2 separate regions of the Homo sapiens genome follow, and region 2 is linked to region 1. The links come from fine-mapping of genetic effects on gene expression. A gene starts in region 1. The other region holds a variant in brackets. All regions are shown on one strand. Distances are between the middles of the regions.

Region 1 (12,920 bases):
CAATGAAAGTGACAGGCAGGGAGACAAGCAGCTAGACAGTGAGACACACAGGCATAGATAAAAGGCCTAACGACAGAGAGACTACACAGGCAAAAGAAATATAGAGAAACCTGGAAACACAGAAGGAGAGATGCAAGAACTGAGCAGACAGAGAAGAGGGATGGCAGAAAAATAGGCTGGCAGGGAGGGAATGGAGATTGACTGACAGAGAAGGCAGGCAAAATCACCAAAAGGGATGCAGACAGGCAAACAGAGAGAGAGAGAAAGAGAGAAGAAGGGAAGACAGATAAAGGAAGAAAAAATAAGGTAAGAAGGAAGACAAAGTGATAATGGTGTTTTATACAACATAGTGCTTTATAATTTATAAAGTGCTATCACATACATTACTGCAGGCAGACAGGGAGAATCCAGCAGACAGATGGGGTGATGGAAGGATACAGGCCAATCAGACAGAAGAGAGGGGAGAGGGCCAATCAGAAAAAGAGGCTAGAATAGAGATCAAGACAGACAGATAAGAAGAAAGAACCAAGAAAAGAGAAGTAAGAGAGGGAAAGAGGGAAAGAGTGGAGAGACACAAAGATAGAGGCTGAAACAGTTAAACTCAGGAAAACAGGCAGTAAAAAAGCAGAAATGAAAGAACAGTGCATTGTGTGTAGAAGTTTTATTATCATCTTTTTCAAAGAGACCTGGTTAGAGGTTGTGTCTTTGTCTCCTTCAAAGAGTTATAAAATGTCTCTAAGGTGGCATGTGAGTGGAGCCAGAAGGCTTTAATCAGGAGAAAGCTTTTTAGACTAGGAGGAAGACAAACTTCTTAGGCCTAGGTCGACAACCTAAAGGATCTGGATTCACATGACCTTACAGAATTCATATAGACTAAGTGAGAAAGCAGGGCAGTCCTCTACCTACTCTGTGTGCATGTAAGCTCAGCTTACTGTTACTTATTAACAGTGCCTATATTTATAGGGTACTTTTTAGTACTACCGGTGCTTTCATGCCTTCTCCAATACACATTTCAGTGATGAAGCGACCAACAAAGATGTCTTGCTGGCATCAGACCACTTACCATGCAGAGTAGACTACATTTGGAGAGAGTAAAGCCTTCCTGAGCACTCCTCAAGTACTGGTAGTGAACGCATGCAACCAGTAACTAGTCAATCCAAAAGACACGTGCTTTGGGTAACACTTGGTAGAATCAAAAAGACCAGAGATGGCAAGCCCAGCCAAGTTAGTTAGGAGTACTGACAGACTGACAGAGGAAGGAGCATCCAGAAAAACTGGAAGAAAAGTAGGGAGGAGTACAGCAAAACACAAGCAAAAGCAAGCAAGCAAAAAGACTTGTATATGTGTAGACTTTTCTCTGGAGCAGTATCCAGGAAATGTGAAACAGTGGCTGCTTCTGAGGAGAGGAACTCCGGGACTAGGGGAGAAGGATGGGAGACAGGTTTACTTTTCACAGTACACTTTCTGTACTTTTAAAATGTTGTACCATAAGTATGTACTACCTATTTAGAAGTTAACTGGAAAAAGAAACAAAAGAAGAGAGAAAAGCAAGAAGAGACGTGGACAGCAAGAGCCTGCCAAGCAGACAGCAAAAAGGCAGGAAGGCAGCGAGAGACTGGGAAAATGGCAAAAAGACTGAGACAGGCAGACTGTCTGAGGAACCAGAAAGACAGAAAAAGAGATAACTGAAATAAAGGCAAACGTGAGAGAAGGCAGGGTAGGGGATGTGGCAAGAAGTTAGATAAGACTTTGAGGCAAAGGGGTTACTGAGAGGTTTAGGGGAGAGAGACTATCCTCATTGATGGAAGTTGGCAGAGAAGAAGCAAAGGAAGAAAAAGCTGGTAAGTATGAAGACTAAAGAGAGAAAAGCCTGAAACGGTGGGATAGCAGCAAACAGGGTAGACAGGCAAGAGAGATCTAAAGGGAGGCAAGGGAAAAGGAGGAACTTAACAGGCACAAATAAGAGAAGGAACAAGCAGAAGGGCAAGAGAAGAGGCAAACCAAGATGGGGAGCCGTGGCAGGGCCTGGAAGGTAGACAAACCGAGAGATGCAGGCTAAAAAAGTGATAGAGACAGGCAGGCGGGGAGACAGATGGCTAGAGAGAGAGTGGTGGGCAAACAGCCAGAGAAGCAGACAGACAACCAGAGAGGAAAAAGAGGCTGCCAGCCAGTCAGGGAGGAGCAGACAGGCAGGCAGGCAGACACCATAACAGGAGCAAGCAGGTAAAGAGGCAGAAATAAGGAGAGAAGAAGAAAAATCAAGAGGTCAGGAGAGAGAGAGAGAGAACAGAAAGAGATGCAGACAGGCAAAAGGGAGGATGGATGAGAGGGAGAATAAGGCAAATTAGCAAATCCACATGCAAAGCACACTCAAGAGAGAGAATGATGAGTGTTTGTATAGGGATGCACACGGCCACCTTTAGCCACCCGCACCTGCAGATCATGGCACATGTGGCAAGCAGAGGCTCTCAGTATAGGGAGAGGGCACAGAGGCAGAGAGGCTGCGGCGCACATGATGCGCAGTGTGGCCCACATACACGTGGAGACACTTCCCATACACAGTATGATCCACAGACACACACAGAAGGGGCCAGAAAGAGGGGGAGTCAGGCACACATGAGGAAGAGCCACACACAGTCAGAGACTGGAAGACAGAAGTAAGCAGAAAGAAGACAGAGATGGAAAGTCACGTAGAGGTGACAGAGCCTGAGGGTCCAAGGGATGAGAAGGATAGTCTCAGTTAAAAACAAAGACATAAATAGAGAGAAGCCCACAATATAGAAAGGGGGGGATAACCAGATGAACTAGTAAAGAGGGACAGAGAAAGAAGACAAGAGAGCAAAATCGACAGGAAAACTGGAAAAGGAGGAGGAGTTAGACTTAGTACAGAAATGATGTGGGAACCAAAGCAAGAGAATTCCAAAGGCCAGGTTAAAAAAAAAAGAGATGGAAACCAACACCCAATAAAGTGCATTAGTGTGGGGAGTGGAACATTAATAAAGAACATTTTAGCTTCATAAACAAAAATGTGCGTCATCTTCCCAGTCACTAATACTTTCTGGTTGCTGCCCACCTACCCCTCCCTCTCAGGGTGCTCCTGAGCACCGCCGAAGATGGGTGGCCAGCAGTTACACTGGAGAGGTAGAGGAATAACCCAGAGAGAAATGATTCCACAGGCATGGAATGGGAAGCAAGGGAAGGGGCAAAGGGAGATCAAAGGAATGGGAGGAAGCTAGAGTAAGAAAGGGTCAACAAGAATGAAAGAGGGTAGAACTGAGCTATTTGCCCTCCTTCCTTTGCTCCATTTGGCAAGGATCATTTTCTGTCTAGACCTCTCTGGGCAAATCTCTGTATGAGAAAGCTACTTTGGGACTCCTTTCCAACTGTCCAATTCCTGGTACCACTTTACCATAAACACTGGGGTACAGTTGGAAATCACAGGTCAGAAAGTTAGATGAAAACGCCTGGGTATAACCCCTACCTCTGCTTTTTCTCAGTTCCAGCTCCTTTCTCTTTCACGGTACCTCAGTTGCTTCTACTTTATCGGATAGTGTTGGAGATCATGGAGGGAAGGCAAATATACTGAAACGGAAGAAAAGAGAACATAATTTCACGATCTTCAGATTTGACTCTTTCCTCTTTATCCTAAAAATTTGTTGTTTACCCCCCAAATTAATTTCTCAAGTCAGTTGAATTTTACATTCTAACAATTGGAGGAGGGGAAAGCGAGGGAAAGGGGAAAAGAGTAAAGATAAAATTTATAACAATTATAAATCACTGAAAAGGCTGGGTAAAGGGGAGAATCAAACATGGACTCCTTTGAAAAAAACTCAATCATCGTATCTATTCATATCTCTCCCCCAAAAGTCACTAGGATTTCTATCACTTTTTTTAAAGAAAGCAGAAAAAAATCCAGTCCCGCTTCTCATTTAAAAGATATGTACACAATTAAATGCGTTGTGACTTCAATGAGGTATGTAGAAACAGAGTTATATATAAACATATATTTCATCTTTTTCCTTTTCAATGCCTGAAGGGGAAAAAAACCTTCACATCAAACCACTCCCTTCTGAAGTATTCAAAAAAAAAAAAGCTTTTCTTTAGAGAAGGGAGGTGGGGAGGAAGAGACTAGTAAAGAAAATAAAAAAAATTAAATCTAGTTGGACTAGTATCTAACTAGTTAACCTTTAACAATTTATGCTGATGTCAGACTGAGCATGAGTACTGATTAATGCCCCCCCTCAAATATTTTTTATAAGGGGGGAGTTAGTCACAGCAGCCATTTTTGTTTTATGCAGAAATCCTTCATGCCCCCCCAACACACACACACACACACACACACTTCAGTACACAAGGAAAATATCTCTATTAATCTGTGCACTAATCAGTTATGAAAAAGGAGAAATTTGTGGGTTTCTGGGTAAAGGCTTGGAGATGGGGGTGTAACAGGGAGGAGAATGGGGGGGTGAAAAATGAAATATTAAGCCAGCCATTTTGTTTGAAAAGGGGATTTTCCCCCCTCTCCCTTTCTTTATGGAGGGGGTGGCGGTGCTGGAGGGGGGGTTGTTTTAAAAATAATTTCAAGGCGGCCATCTTAGTGCCTCAGCTCTGAGAAATATTTCTGAGCGCCCCCCTCAGAATTTAAATATATTTAAAGCAACGGAGAGGGGGGCAGAGAGAAGTCGAAAACTTTTATATATATACATATATATATATATATATATGTATATATATATATATTTTAAATCCCCCTTTCTTGTTCTCTTGGGAGGAAAGAGAGAAGGAAAAAAAGTCTTTCCTCAATTTTTTCCAAGACAATTTTTGGGGGTGGTTTGGCCCCCCTCCTCAGACGGCGGCCCCGAGGGTGGGGGTTTCGGAGGGGGGTGGCCCGGGGGTTTGGGGGGCTGGGGGAGGCGGTGAGGAGGAGGAGGACGCCGCCGCCGAGGAGGAGGAGGAGGAGGAGGAGGAGGAGGAGGAGGAGGTGGTGGTGGTAGCGGTGGGGGAGGCGGGCGGGCGGTGGGTGGGGGGGTGGTGGGGGGGCCAGAGCCACAGGATGGCTTCCCCTCTGAGGGACGAGGAGGAGGAGGAGGAGGAGATGGTGGTGTCGGAGGAGGAAGAAGAGGAGGAAGAAGAGGGCGACGAGGAGGAGGAGGAGGAGGTGGAGGCGGCCGACGAGGACGATGAGGAGGACGACGACGAGGGAGTACTCGGGCGCGGGCCGGGCCACGACCGGGGCCGCGACCGCCACAGCCCCCCCGGCTGCCACCTCTTCCCGCCGCCGCCGCCGCCGCCGCCACCGCTGCCCCCGCCGCCGCCGCCCCCGCCGCCAGGTAAGCGCCCGCCCCGACTCCCCCCCCAAGCCCGAGTGGGAGCCGCGGGCGCGCGAAGCCGGGCGGGGGCGAGGCACCCACCGCGCGGCCGAGCCGAGGCGAATCCGGAGCGCGAATCCGGGGCTCGGGCCCGTGGCCCCGCGGCGGTCCGGGAGGTCGGGGCGGGCGGTGGCGGCTGCGACCGCGGGGCCAGGCCTCCTCCCCTCCCCCGCCGCACCCCTCCCCCGCCGCCGCCGCCGCCGCCGCCGCCGCCGCCGCCGCCACCCCGGCTGGAGAGCGCTGGGCGCGAGCTGCGCGCGCGGACCGGGCCACTCGGTCGCGGCTTTCGGGGGAGGAGGAGGAGGAGGTTTTTTTTTTACCCTCGGCGGGGAGGGGGTAGGCAGGAAACGGCCAAGGCGAAGCCAGGGCCCCCTCCCTGGCCGAGCGAGGGACCGCCGAGACCCTGGCGGCCGGACGGCGGCGTGGGGGAGGGGCACGTGGGGGAGGGGCGGCCGCGCGAGCGCCCCTCGGGCTCTGGCCCCGGTGGGGTTGGACCGAGGGAGAGTGGGGTTTCCCCGCACGGAGCAGCCGACGGGCCTGCCCCCTCCGCTCAGGACTTGGACAGGCAGAGTGGGGACGGTGTCCATCGGACCCCCCTCCACCCGCGGAGACTTAGGTGCCCGCCAACTGAGGGGCATGCGGTGGCACGCGAGGGAGGGGTCTTGTGAATGTTTGTGGGCTGCTGATGAGTAGGGGCAGGTGGTGGCCACAGTCCACGCAGACCACTTCCTGGAATAAGGCAGGAGCTCGTCCCCTCGCTCCCCCAGCCTGTGCAGGGACAGCAGTCCATTCGGATTGGGGAGCGGAGAGAAGAGTGTCTGGGGAACCAGATACCCCCGGCTCCACCCCCTTCATCTCGCCGGGGCTCTGGGCTCTTTTGTGTCAAGTGCGGTGGGGGGGGTCCCCCTCTTGACCCCGTCAGTCTGGGGTGGCCAAGCTGCCCAGCTGTGACTCTCACGTGGCTGCCATTCACTGTCACTCACTCTCTCGCTGAAACCACCCACTCCCTGAGCACGTTGGGGGGCGTGAACTGCCCACCCAGCTGTTCTGCAGCTTGACCATCACTCAGCACCCGTCCCCCGAGGTGACAAGTCACCCGGCGGCACTCTCTGGGCGGCGCTCTCCAGACCGCTGCGCCGCGTCAGGCGCCCAGCGGTGTCCCCCTCAGACCACCCTCCTAGTGGAGTGATTTCTAGTCTTCTTTGGGATAGGTGAGCATCTGGGTGTCCACACCCCCTGCTTGGGGAACAGCAGGGGGACCTCCGCACCCCCGGGCCTCTGGCTGCCATGCGGCACAAATGCACCAAACTTCAAAACGGCCAACTCCGGGCTCTTTGTAAAACTGTCATATTGATCCGTGTGGCTTCTGTGGCAAACGTTCCTGTCTAGCCGAGACGACCTTTGGGGGAGCGGGGGGTGCTTTCTTGTGGGTCGGGGAGGGATGTGTGTCTCCTGGAAACTGGATAAAGTCTCCCCGCCCCCCAAGCTTGTCTGAAAAAGGGTAAAGTTTTGAAAAAGTTCTCCCAGAGAGCCCCCTGCCTTGGCAGGAGGAGGAGGAATGAGGAGTTGTGGGGAGAGGGTGCCTTTGGGGTTGCCTCCGGCAGAGGCGCTGAAAAGAGGGAAAGAAAGGCCGTCAGGTCCTGCCAGGGGCTTGGCAGCGCTCACCTATTTGTATTGGGACTTGGAGTCTGGGGTGGGGTGGTGTGGGTCCCGGATCTGGGTACGTTGGGGAGAGAAGCGTGAAAGGATCCGAGGTTGAGATGGGTCTTTGTGTCAACCCGGCCTCCCCTTTCCCTCTTGGCTTTCTGAATAGACCAGAAGAGACGTCAGAGGCTGCTTACATTTTACAACTGAAATGAAAACCCACCTCCCCTCTCCCCCTGGGCAATTTTTATCTCCCTTTCAGCCCTCCAAGTCGAATGAGTGACCCAGATACACCCCCTCAGATGACTTTCGGAGGTAAAACTTCGGGAAATTATTTTTAGCACACTCATTATTTCTGTCTACCTAAGTGTGGGGAAAAGAACCCTCCTCTAAGGAAATTTGTTCAGGCTGCCCTCGCTCTTCCTTGTCTAGAGTATGCATTTGTGCACAGGAGAGATTTCCATTGTTTTCCATTCCGACTGCTTTGATTCTCACCATTTTGTTTTACATTCTTACTCAAGACCAATTTTATCCCTTCCCCCTCTCTCCAGTCTCCTTACATTGTTAAACGTTTAAAATAATAGCAGTCGTGTTGGTGGGGGAAGGGAGCAGGAAGCCAAAAACTCATTTCTTCTCCCTCCCCCTTCTGGCAAGTCGAGAGAAATAATATAACATAATATATAGATGTGATTCCTTGGGGGTGGGGGTGGGGAATGATTGTGGGTGGTGCGGAAAATTCTGGTAGTTTCTTTGCAAAAGGTCTGAAAATACAAACCCACCCCCTGCCTGCAGTACGCATGTGCAGCAGACCTATTATGGTGGTGCGTTGTGGGGGAGGGAGGGGAATTTGAGAAAAAATAAATATATGTGTGAGAGATTGATGGTGAGATTAGAAGAAGAGAGGGGCGGGCGGGAGGCGAGGCTTCGGCCGAGACTCCTCCCGCTTGCTCGGGCGGCCAGGCTCCGCCCTGCGCCCTCCGGCCCCCGCCTCTCTCCTCCCTGCCTCCCTGAGATCCGAGCCGGGGATGTGGGAGAGTCTGGGCTCCAGGCCAGCATTGAGTGGCTGCTGAGACCGAGGTTGGGACTTAGATTTGCTTTATTACCCTTCCTTGCTTTTCCTTGCCGTTCTCGCTTTGCCTCTCCCGCCACCGACGCCTGCCCAAGTTCGGGAACCTCCCGCTGGGGTGGGGAGTAGAGTGAACCGGCTTGTGCACCACCCCTGGCTGGTGGTGGCCGAGGCCGTGTCCCTGAACCTTAGCCAGTTGGCCTGCCCTTGCCACTGCCTCGGCAGCCTGCGTTTCCATGTTCAAGTCAACCGAAGTCCCTGGGGCCAGGGGGAGCCGGCTGCTGGGGCATGGCGCCTTCCTTGCTGACTTCCTATTACAGTCCCCATTCCGTTTCACACCCGGGCTCTGGCAGCCACCCCCCTGCACACACGCACACAGTCCTAGAGTGTCTTCCTGCACAAGGGGACACAGGATGCTGGAGTTAGCAGGAAAGGTGGCACTGAAGGAAGGCGAGGCAGCGACTCTGAGGCAGTGGAAACGGAGGCCTCTGGTGTTAATTGTGGCTAATTTTCCGTTGGCTGTTGAGGGAAGGAGAAAGGATTGTGTGTCCTAGAGCTAGGGGCTGGGCCAAGCCCAGGCTTTCCCATCTTGCATCGGCTGCCTCTCTCTGTACTAGACAGGTCTGGCTGGTTAGTCTAGTGCTTGGTAGGGGAGGGACGTGAACCAGAGCCCCAGGGCCCCAGGTCTGTGGGGCATCCTGTCTTCCTTTATGTGGGGTAACTCTCCGTTCCGTTCCCCAAGCCTTCACAGAGTGACACCTTCACAGATAATGGGGTGGGGGGCCTGGGGTCCTCTGGCAGAGACATCTGGGGAGAAAGCCAGGGACCTATCCCTGCTGAAGCAGGTACAGGCCATCCTCTGGATTTGTGGGCCTGAGAGTGTGTGTGGGTGTGGGTGCGCGCGTGCGCGCGCGTGCTTTTGAGAAGGCATATGCTGGGTGTGTCTGTCTGTGCCTATATCTTTGTTTGGGTCTCCCATACTGCGTATAGATGAATGGGTCAGGATATCTGGAACAAAATATGGAGGTGAAGGGTGAGATCGGGAAACAAAGGGTATGGCCCCCTAGTTCCCAAAGGGAGCAGGGAGATGGGAATAGAATTGAAGGTAGGTTTTAGGCTACTTGGGAGGAGGAATATTTAGGTAATTGTGGAGACTTTCTCCTGTGTGATGAAGGCGGCAGACACTGTGATCCTGTGGGCAAGAAGTAAAAATGACCAGCTGAGGATTTCTTTTCCTCCAGGACTGTGTTGGGGTGACAGGATGCCTGGTAATTATCCGAGGAAATGTAAATAGAGGCCTCCCTCTTGGCAAAAGGATGTCAGGGCCCCAGGGTGTTAGTGTGAGAACCCAGGTGTCCACCTTTGGCTCTCCCTCCCCAGCATCTGGCTTAGGGAGCTGCCAGCTTGTGTCTCCCCACTCCAAGTGCTGGGGTCAGGCCAGGCCAGCAGCTGGGCATGGCTTCCCCAGTTCCTGGGCAGGATGCCAGCTGGCGAAGTGAGGGGGAAGGCAGGAGGAGCCCTGGCGGTGACTGAAAGGACCTGCCACAGTCAGAGCCCATGGCCTGGAGCCTGGTCTCTTGTTAGTAGGAGGGGAGGGAGGGGAGTGGTTTGGCTGCTCTTCTCTTCTGACCCCTGACCTCCCATTCAGAACCAGAGCATCCCAGAGTACTCGAAACACTTTCTGTTTGCATCCAGTGAAGGGAGGCAGGGCTTGGAGGAGTTAATGCTTCCTAGAGAGTGGGAACTGCCGAGGTGGGGAAGGGGCAAGTTGAGGGGCCTCAGAGGCTGGAAACCTAGAGGCTTAGGTTTTCTGATGCTTTTTGCTTCAAAGATAAGGATGACATTCGGCTGCTGCCGTCAGCATTGGGTGTGAAGAAGAGAAAACGAGGACCCAAGAAGCAGAAGGAGAACAAGCCAGGAAAACCCCGAAAACGCAAGAAGCGTGTAAGTGTCAAGAATTCCTAACTCTGTGGCAAGGCTCAAGAGACCCATTCTCAGAGACCTACATTTTCTCTGGTCCTGATTACTGGTGTGGGGGTGGGGTTCTGAAGCCAGGGAGGCTTGATCCCCCGGGCCCCCCACTTCCCTGCCACTGTTGGCCTGTATCTCAGGGATCTGGGACCCTAACTTCATTCACTGCAACCTAGTGAAGAGCCTCGTTGTCAGTGTGTCCTCAGCAGCAAAGAGAAGCAGTTGAAAGCACAAGCTCTGGAAGACTGTATGAATTCAAGAGTCCAGCATTCCTCTGTCTAGGATACCAGGCCGTTTATTTGGCTCTCTGTGCCTTAGTTTCCTCATCTGTAAAAAGTAGATAAAGGCCGGTTGCAGTGGCTCACGCCTGTAATCCCAGCACTTTGGGAGGCTGAGCCGGGTAGATCATTTGAGGTCAGGAGTTCGCGACAAGCCTGGCCAATGTGGTGAAACTCCGTCTCTACTAAAAATACAAAAATCAGCCGGGCGCGGTGGTACGTCTGTAATCCCAGCTACACAGGAGGCTGAGGCAGGAGAATCGCTTGAACCCGGGAGGTGGAGGTTGCAGTGAGCCGAGATCACGTCAGTGCACTCCAGCATGGGTGACAGAGCAAGACTCCATCTCCAAAAAAAAAAAGGAGATAAAAAATTAGTTACTATCACAGGATTGTTGTGAAGATTAAAAGAGGTAAGATATGGTATGTGCTGAGAACAGTTTCTGGCAATGGTAGGGATGAATAAATGTTATTTTTATTTCTTTCTCTTAGGACAGTGAGGAGGAATTTGGTTCTGAGCGAGATGAGTACCGGGAGAAGTCAGAGAGTGGGGGCAGTGAATATGGAACCGGACCGGGTCGGAAACGAAGAAGGAAGCACCGAGAAAAAAAGGAGAAGAAGACAAAGCGGCGGAAAAAGGGGGAGGGAGATGGGGGGCAAAAGGTGAGTAGAATTAGGGAATGAGAGTGAGAAATCTGCATTAAAGACGGGCATGAGGAGGGGAGGAATGGAGACTGGACTGGAGAATGGGGCAAGAAGCAAGAAAGCCCAGGGAAGCTAGTGGGTAGGTAGACAGGCCTGTGTGCGGCCTGGAATAGGGGCTGGAGGAGCACCTACTTCACCAAAGCCCCTCTCCCGCAGCAAGTGGAACAGAAGTCATCAGCAACTCTGCTTCTGACCTGGGGCCTGGAGGATGTGGAGCATGTGTTCTCTGAGGAGGATTACCACACGCTCACCAACTACAAAGCCTTCAGCCAGTTCATGAGGTGCGGTAAGACTGGGGAATCCTCGCTAATTGACACTTTTAATTTGAGGGAGGTCCTGGACCCCTTGGAATCTGATGAAAGCTATGAAACTGCTCTCCAGAGAATTCACGGTGTATACACACCAAATTCTACACGTCATTTCAGGGAACTCCTAGACTCATAAGGATCCAAGAACCCCAGTTGAGAACTCTTCACTGAGGGGCGAGGGGTGGAGGGGCCATCATGATTCCAGTGCTGGGTTAGAGAACTCTTTAGCAACAGAATAAAGTGAGGACAGAATATAGTGAGCCCTCCCCTGCCCCAACAGCTCCATCTTCTGCTCTGTGACTTCTCTCTAGACTGGACCTGAGAGATACCATCAGTGTTCCTGAACTTCCTTAGCTCACTTAGCAGGTCCTGTGCCCCTTCCTTAGGCCCTGGTAATAATGGAGGGTCCACTGCTGGCAGTGGGACCTGAGCTTCAGTGGCTCCTGAAGAAAAGTAGAGAATAGTAGAGTAGAAAATAGCAGAGATGGGCCAGGTGCAGTGGCTCATGCCTGTAATCCAAGCACTTTGGGAGGCCAAGGCAGGTGGATCGCCTGAGGTCAGGAGTTCAGGACCAGCCCATCCAACATGGTGAAACCCCGTCTCTACTAAATACAAAAAAATTAGCTGGGCGTGGTGGCACATGCCTGTAATCCCAGCTACTCGGGAGGCTAAGGCAGGAGAATCGCTTGAACCCGGGAGGCAAAGGTTGTAGTGAGCCGAGATCACACCACTGCTATGCTCTAGCCTGGGCAACAAGCGAAACTCCGTCTCAAAAAAAAAAAAAGAAAAAATAGTGCCGATGTATTTTGTTTTGGGGAGAAGGCACTTTAACATATCAGTTCAGTGCTCTGGAGGCAGCTGCTGAGGTTCACATCTGGTTACATTTTGGGCAAGTGACTGAACTTCTTCAATCCTCAATTTCCTCTTCTATAAACGGGGAATAATAATATATACCTCATAGGAATCTGTGTGGGTTTGGTGGGATAATGAATGGAAAGCACAGTACCGTCAGTGCCTGGCTCCTAGGGAGCATTCAGTAACTGGTGACTGTCATTAGTAACGTTGTCTCACCTACCTTACTGCTGAACTTGGGGCTTTTCTCAGCACCATGGATCACCCGTGTCCGCACAAGAGTTGAGCACCCCACCCCAGAGCAGAACCAGCATGGTCTGACTCTTTCACACTCCGTCCTACGGAAGCCCATCTTCAGGGCCCATGGAACTTACTAGTAAAATGCAGAGAATCATAGCAACTCAAGAGTATTATTGTGAGGACAAGATAAGGTGGAATGTATGTGAAAGGGTTTTATGAACTGTAAAGTAGTATACAAAAGTAAAGCATTTTTGTTGATTTTATTTTAACCTTTTATGCTTTTAAGTTTTATTTCGCTGTTTTTTATTTCCCCTTTTTTTTTTTTTTTTTTTGAGATGGAATCTCACTCTGTCGCCAGGCTGGAGTGTAGTGGCGCAATCTTGGCTCACTGCAACCTCTGCCTCCCAGGTTCAAGCAATTTTTCTGCCTCAGCCTCCCGAGTAGCTGAGACTACAGGTGCGCACCACTACACCCAGCTAATTTTTGTATT
Region 2 (8,000 bases), 85 kb before region 1:
CATTTGTGACTCTGATCCCCTCTTCCCATGGCTCAGGGGATTTCCTGAAGGAGCCCAAGGTGTATGAAGACCTCACGGATCTGACAGTGCTGAAGACAGTCATGGAGACAGCTCTAAATGAGTATAACCTGTCACCCTCTGTCGTGCCCATGCAGCTAGTGCTCTTCCGAGAGGCTATTGAACACAGTGAGCACCTGCCACGCCTATCCCCTTCCCCATCATCTCAGTGATGGGGTATGTCTAAGGAAATAGGGGTCCCTTCCCAGGTCTCCCAAATCAAGTTCCAGAAGCTGCCTTTCTCCCTGGCCCCAGATGCCCTGTGGCAGTGTGTGTTTAACAGAGAAGGTGGAGGTTAAAAGTTGAATTGCCTCCTGGGCCTTGGGCACCAACTTCTTCTCATACCTCTTGGTTCCTCTGCTTCAGTTTCAGGGGCCCCAATCCCTAGCCTAGGGCCTGGAGGTCCCCTGAGTTTGCTCAGCCAACTCATTACCCTCACACCCACCCCACCCCCAGTCACACGGATCGTGCGGGTCATTGGACAGCCTCGGGGCAACATGCTCCTGGTGGGTATCGGGGGCAGCGGACGCCAGAGTCTGGCCCGCCTGGCTTCATCCATCTGCGACTACACCACCTTCCAGATCGAGGTCACCAAACATTATCGGAAGCAGGAGTTCCGAGATGGTACGGCTGGGTTTCTGAAATGCTAGGAATAAAAGATCAGATGCATACATTCCTGCAGTGACAAGAGAGGAGAGATGGCAGCCAGATGGGCAGACGTGTCTGGCCCGTGTTGGGTGTAGGATGGTGTCGCGTGTATGCTGCGGGGCGGGGAGGGTTCCTAAATCTCAGAAAAGGAATCAAGCCCAGGATGGGGAATCTGCAGTGAGTTTGTCCTCCTTCCCTCCCCCGGCCAGATATCAAGCGTCTGTATCGCCAGGCTGGGGTGGAGCTCAAGACCACGTCCTTCATTTTTGTGGACACCCAAATAGCTGATGAGTCCTTCCTAGAGGACATCAACAACATCCTCAGCTCAGGCGAGGTGCCCAATCTCTACAAGCCTGATGAATTTGAAGAGGTAGGATTCCTTCCACACCCTTGACCAGTCAGTTCTTTGGCCTGCCTAGCTGACCCCAGAAGGACCACAGCTCCCAGAATGTGCCACTGGCACACCCCCACTGCCACACCCCCACTGCCCACCTCAGCCCTGTAAGGTGGAAGGTCCCCTCCAGGGACCCTGGGCAGAGCTGCTTTAAAACCCACGCTTCAGAGCCAGGCACAGTGGCTTGAGCTTGTAGTTCCAGCTACTCGGGGGTGGGGGGTGCTGAAGTGGGAGGATGGTTTGAGGCCAGGAGTTCAAGTCCAGCCTGGGAAACACTTCGTCAGCCCCACCTGACCCGCTGCCCCCGCTGATTCTGCTATGGACACGCCAGCCCTCTGACCCTGGGTGGCTTCTGTCCAGATCCAGTCGCATATCATAGACCAGGCCCGGGTGGAGCAGGTGCCTGAGTCATCGGACAGCCTCTTCGCCTACCTCATTGAACGCGTGCAGAACAACCTGCACATCGTGCTCTGCCTCAGCCCCATGGGGGATCCCTTCAGGTGACTTCTGTGACATCCTTCTCTCAGCCCCTTCTGTGTGCTCCCTCACCCTGCTGTGGCCTCCTGTGCCTTCTGGAAATTAGTGTCAGGAATAACAGCAGGCTCCTCTGCCCGCCTCACCCATCTCCTTTCCTTAGGCTGTGCCTGATTTCAGGAAGTTCCTTTGGTGGACATGGGAGTCGTCCATCCTTTTTTGGCATAACTAGATTTTTGTTTGTTTGTTTTGGTGGGTGGCTTTTTGGTTTTGTTTTGTCATTGTAAATCTAATTGTGGTTAAAAACACACACACACAGGCCGGGCATAGTGGTTCACACCTGTAATCCCAACACTTTGGGAGGCCTAGGTGGGTGGATCACGAGATCAGGAGATCGAGACCATGCCGGCTAACATGGTGAAACCCCGTCTCTACTAAAAATACAAAAAATTAGCCAGGCATGGTGGCGGGGGCGCCTGTAGTCCCAGCTACTCAGGAGGATGAAGCAGGAGAATCGCTTGAACCCGGGAGGCAGAGGTTGCAGTGAGCCGAGATCACACCACTACACTCCAGCTTGGGTGACAGAGCGAGACTCTGTCTCAAAATACACACACACACACACACCCAAAATGTATCATCTTAATCGTTTCTGAGTGCAGTGCTCAGTCGTGTGAAGTACACTCACACTGTTGTGTAACAGCTCCAGAGCTTTCTCATGCTCCCGAGGCCGTACTCCATACCCATGAAACCATTGCTCCCCATTCCCTCCCCAGCTGCTGTCTCTTGAGTCTGACATCAGATGCCTCACATAGGTGGAACCATGCCGCACTTGTCTTTGTTTCTTTTTTTGTTTGAGACGGAGTCTCGCTGTGTTGCCCAGGCTGGAGTGCAGTGCTGTGATCTCGACTCACTGCAGCCTCTACCTCCCAGGTTCAAGTAATCTTCGTGCCTTAGCCTCCCAGTAGCTAGGATTACAGGTGCTCGCCACCATGTCCAGCTAATTTTTGTACTTTTAGTAGAGACAGGGTTTCACCATGTTGGTCTGGCTGATCTCAAACTCCTGACCTCAAGTGATCCACCCGCCTTGGCATCCCAAAGTGCTGGGATTACAGGCGTGAGCCACCGCGCCCAGCTACCATTTGTCTATCTGCGACTTGCTTATTTCACTTAGCGTATTGTCCTCAAGGTTCATCCATGTTGTAGCATGTGTCAGGATTTCCTTCTTTTTTTAAGGCTGAATAATATTATCTTGTATGTCTATACCACATTTTCTTGATATGACTAGATTTTTAAGGGAATTAGAAACTAGGAAGAGGGCGGAGAACTTGTGCAGGGAAGCAATTTGGATTACCTTAAAAATTTTTTTTTGTCTGGGCGCGGTGGCTCATGCCTGTTATCCCAGCACTTTGGGAGGCCGAGGCAGGTGGATCACAAGGTCAGGAGATCGAGACCATCCTGGCTAACACGGTGAAACCCCGTCTCTACTAAAAATACAAAAAAATTAGATGGGCATGGTGGCGGGCACCTGTAGTCCCAGCTACTCGGGAGGCTGAGGCAGGAGAATGGCGTGAACCTGGGAGGTGGAGCTTGCAGTGAGCCTAGATGGCGCTACTGCACTCCAGCCTGGGCGAGAGTGAAAGACTCCGTCTCAAAAAAAAAAAAAAATTTTTTTTTGAGACCGAGTCTTGCTCTGTTGCCCAGGCTGGAGTGCAGTGGTGCCATGTTGGCTCACTGCAACCTCCATCTCCCAGGCTCAAGTGATCCTCCTGCCTCAGCCTCTCCGGTAGCTGGGACTACAAGCGCATGCCACCACGGCCAGCTAATTTTCGTACTTTTTGTAGAGATGGGGTTTCGCCATGTTGCCTAGGATGGTTTCGAACACGTGGGCTCAAGGAAGCCACCTGCCTTGGCCTCCCAAAGTGCTGGGATTACAGGCACAAACTCCAGTGCCCGGCCTACCATTTTGTTTTTAATGTTTGTGATACACGGTGTACTTACCATAGCCAGGCGCTACGCTGAGCTTTTCACGTGTGACACCTCACTGAATCCCCCAACCATCCTAGTCAGCATGTATTATTATTCCCATTTTAGAGA[C/T]GAGGAAACTGGCATTCAAAGAGCTTAGATACTTGCTGGAGATCCACACCTCGAAAGTGTAGAACCAGGTTTTTCTGATGCCAGAAGCTGTTTCTAAATGCTCTGCTGAACTAGCTCTGCAGGAACAGAATTTGGACAAGGAGATACAGGAGCAAGGGGATGGGGCATTTTAGGTTCTTAGAAAGTGAGTGGATGCGTGTTGGGAAGCCAGTACCTGGAGGCTGTGTCTGTGCACGGAATTTACAGCCTCTCCAAACCCCTTCCCAGGAACTGGATCCGCCAGTACCCAGCCTTGGTGAACTGCACAACCATCAACTGGTTCTCAGAGTGGCCCCAAGAGGCCCTGCTCGAGGTGGCTGAGAAGTGCCTCATAGGAGTAGACCTGGGAACTCAGGAGAATGTGAGCCCCTCCTCCCCACCTCTCATTGCATCCCTGGCCTCCCTCTCCCCCGCCTCTCATCTCTCATCGCACCCCCGGCCTCTCTCCTTCCCGCCTCTCATCGCACTCCCAGCCTCTCTCCCACTTCCGTTTCCATCTGCCTTTTCATCCTGTGTCACTGGCCTCAGATCCACAGGAAGGTGGCCCAGATCTTTGTCACTATGCACTGGTCAGTAGCTCAGTATTCCCAGAAGATGCTGTTGGAACTGCGGAGACACAACTATGTCACACCCACCAAATACCTGGAACTCCTGTCTGGATATAAGAAGTATGAAGGGGGGCAGGGGATGTGCAGGGCCAGGGAGGCTGGTGTCTTCTGAGGGCGATGGGTGAAATGATGCTGATGTGCAAGGGCAGAGACACAAAGGCCACAGTTCTGCCCAGGAAGTTGGGAAGAGGGAGTTGGGGCTTCCCGTGGGAGGGGCTGTCTCCAGAGCCTTCTGGCTATGTCCCCCTCAGCCGCTCTCCACACCCTCTTGGCCCTTATTTTCTGGCATGAAGTTTCTCTGTCTTTTTCTGACCATAATATAACTGGAACATTGCCATAATATACCCAGTCCTTTCCTGTCTGCCTTTAATGTCTTCTAGACTTTCTACCTGTATGAGATAGAAAAAGCAAAGTGTTTTCCCTACTCTCTCACTCAACACAGTACAGTCCCTCAGCATCCGTGGGGGATTGGTTCCAGGACCTCCCACGGATACCAAAATCCACAGATGCTCCAGTCCCTGATATAGAATGGAGTATCTGCATGTAACTTATGCACGTTCCTCCCATATACTTTGAATCCTCTCTAGATGAGTTATAATACCTAATACAATGTAAATGCTATGTAAATAGTTGTTATACTGTATTGTTTAGGGAATAATGACAAGAAGAAAAAGTCTGTACATGTTCAGTGCAGATGCAAATTTTTTTGCAATTTTTTTTTTTTTAGACGGAGTCTCGCTCTGTTGCCCAGGCTGGAGTGCAGTGGCGCAGTCTTGGCTCACTGCAACCTCTGCCTCCCGGGTTCAAGTGACTCTCCTGCCTCAGCCTACCTAGTAGCTGGGATTACAGGCACGCGCCACCATGCCCAGCTATTTTTTTTTTTTTTTGTATTTTTAGTAGAGACAGGGTTTCACCATGTTGGCCAGGCTGTTCTTGAACTCCTGACCTCAGGTGATCCTCCGGCCTTGGCCTCCCAAAGTGCTGGGATTACAGGCATGAGCCACCGTGCCCAGACTTTTTTCAAATATTTTTGATCCTCTGTTGGTTGAATCCACGGATGTGGATACGGAAGGCTGGCTGTACTTCACTTCTGACACCAGATGTGGTGGGGATTTTCCCCACCCAAGCAGTTCTCCAGGGGACACTGGCTGGGTGTCCTATGATATAACTCAAGTCTGAAATGGTCTACCTGGAGTTAGAGTCAGATCGCACAGGTGGAGGGCTCAGTCCCACAATACACCCGCCGCTTCTGATGCTAACCGAAAGCCCAGTGTTTTACCTGTGTTTCTGCCTGGCCGGTTATAAATCAAGGGTTCCCACCACCCCCTTGTCAGGTTCAGTTAATTTGCTAGAGTGGCTCACAGAACTCAGGAAACACTTCACCTACTATTGCTGATTTATTGCAAAGGATATTTTAAAAGATACAAATAAGGCTGGGCACGGTGACTCACGCCTGTAATCCCAGCACTTTGGGAGGCCAAGGTGGGCCGATCACTTGAGGTCAGGAGTTCAAGAACAGCCTGGCCAACATGGTGAAACCCTGTCTCTACAAAAATACAAAAATTAGCCAGGCATGATGGCGGGTGCCTGTAATGCCAGCTACTGGGGAGGCTGAGGCGGGAGAATCATTTGAACCCGGGAGGTGGAGGTTGCAGTGAGCTGAGATTGCATCATTGCACTCCAGCCTGGGTGACAGATCGAGACTCCGTCTCAAAAAAAAAAATCAGAAATTGTGGGGCAGGTGCAGTGGCTCATGCCTGTAATCCCAGCACGTTGGGAGGCTGAGGTGGGAGGATCACTTGAGGTCAGGAGTTTGAGACCAGCCTGGGCAAAATAACAAGACGCCATCTCTACAAAAAAAGAAAGAGAGAGAGAGAGCAATAAATTGTTGCAATACTGGGCCCACATTCATTCCCATAGGGAAAAAAAACCAGGCTGGAGCTGAGGGACGGCTGCCTGCCCTGGGCCAGCCCACCTGCCTGTTCCACAGTGGGAAACAGAGGAAGATTCTCATGTAGGGGAGGTGGTGTGATGGAGACTGTTTAACAAGCTGATTCTGGTAGTGGTGTGTAGAACAAACCAGAGGAATGAGAGCCTGAAATCAAGAAGAGCCCTTGGGAAGCTGTTGGCAATGACCCAGGCAGGAAGTGATAGAATCCCGACCAGGATGGTGGGGGTAGTGTTGGTGGCAACAGAAAGGAAGGCGGACTCGAGACACACGGGGAAGGTGGACCTTACAGGACACCGCGCTTTCCGGAAGCCCCGCCTCTCCACACCCTGTCCTATTCTTTCCCCCAGGTTGCTGGGAGAAAAACGGCAGGAGCTGCTGGCCCAAGCCAATAAACTGCGGACAGGCTTGTTCAAGATCGACGAAACTAGGGAAAAGGTGCAAGTGATGTCGTTGGAGCTGGAGGATGCCAAGAAGAAGGTGGCTGAGTTCCAGAAGCAGTGTGAGGAGTACCTGGTCATCATTGTGCAGCAGAAGCGGGAGGCAGATGAGCAGCAGAAGGTCCAGGGCCCACGCCCACCCCCCGTGCCCCACTCCCACCAGTGCCGGCTACTGCGTCAGGGAACCCATGTTCCCCCCTTCTTAAATTTTCTTTAGTGACTGGGTGCAGTGGCTCACGCCTGTAATCCCAGCACTTTGGGAGGCTGAGGCAGGAGGATCACCTGAGGTCAGGAGTTCGAGACCAACTTGGCCAACATGGTGAAACCCTGTCTCTACTAAAAATACAAAGATTAGCTGGGCGTGGTGGCGGGTGCCTGTAATCCCAGCTACTCGGGAGGCTGAGGCAGGAGAATCGCTTAAACCCTGGGGGCGGAGGTTGCAGTGAACTGAGATTGCACCACTGCACTCCAGCCTGGGCGAAAGAGCTAGACTCCATCTCAAAAAAAAAAAAAAATTCTTTAGCTTTCTCTTTCATCTTTTCCACCAACACCGTCACTCCCACCTTTGCCCAAGGCAAAGACAAAAAACCCTTGTCCTTTTTTCATCCCTAGGCCGTAACAGCCAACAGTGAAAAGATTGCAGTTGAGGAAATCAAGTGTCAGGCACTGGCTGACAATGCCCAGAAAGATCTAGAAGAGGCACTGCCCGCCCTGGAAGAGGCCATGCGGGTACCAGGGGCGGGTGCAAGGATGGGAGCCAGGAACGCGAGGCCCCGGGGAAGGGAATGGGCCAGTCTTCTTTGTCCTCAAAGACTCTGGGGAAGTGGGAAGAAGAGGTGGCACCTCAGCTAGGTTCTGTCTCCAGAAGGTCCTGTCTTACCCTCACTTTATCCCCTTTTCCCCCAGGCCCTGGAGTCTCTGAACAAGAAGGATATAGGAGAGATCAAGTCTTATGGACGGCCCCCAGCCCAAGTGGAGATAGTGATGCAGGCAGTTATGATTCTTCGAGGCAACGAGCCCACATGGGCAGAGGCCAAGAGGCAGCTAGGTAAGCTAGAGACAATGAAATCAATGACTTCCACTCACCCAGTGTTTATTGATCGTCGGCTGTGCAGCAGACACTCAGAAAGATAGGGATGGATGAGGCATTGTTCTTACCCTCAAGAGCACAGGGCCTAGTAGAAAGGAGACCGCATGAATATCAGTTAAGGTTCTTTGGTTGTGGGTCGAGTGTGGTGGTTCATGCCTGTAAACCCAAGCTTTGGGAGGGCAAGGTGGGCAGATCACTTGAGCCCAGG

What was found. PIP is the estimated chance that this variant, and not a neighbour inherited with it, causes the effect.
Region 2: its variant is fine-mapped to the expression of CHD3 in whole blood (INTERVAL, PIP above 0.99).

The regions. Positions count from the first base shown.
Region 1 is chr17:7,879,754-7,892,673 of GRCh38, forward strand. CHD3 (chromodomain helicase DNA binding protein 3) reads left to right here and starts at 9,036. Exons shown (of 40, transcript NM_001005273.3): 1 at 9,036-9,347; 2 at 9,911-10,023; 3 at 10,818-10,988; 4 at 11,187-11,311. The coding sequence starts at 9,248. It also overlaps a transcript of NAA38 not described here. RefSeq lists silencers at 5,769-5,848, 7,899-8,058 and enhancers at 6,099-6,148, 9,468-10,037.
Region 2 is chr17:7,797,644-7,805,643 of GRCh38, forward strand. It overlaps DNAH2 (dynein axonemal heavy chain 2), which reads left to right. Exons shown (of 86, transcript NM_020877.5): 53 at 37-186; 54 at 514-681; 55 at 915-1,075; 56 at 1,460-1,599; 57 at 3,935-4,067; 58 at 4,235-4,374; 59 at 6,613-6,823; 60 at 7,315-7,431; 61 at 7,609-7,750. Among named protein-coding and RNA genes, the nearest start is that of KDM6B, 33 kb to the right of the region's middle. The variant C/T (reference allele first, on the strand shown) is at 3,668.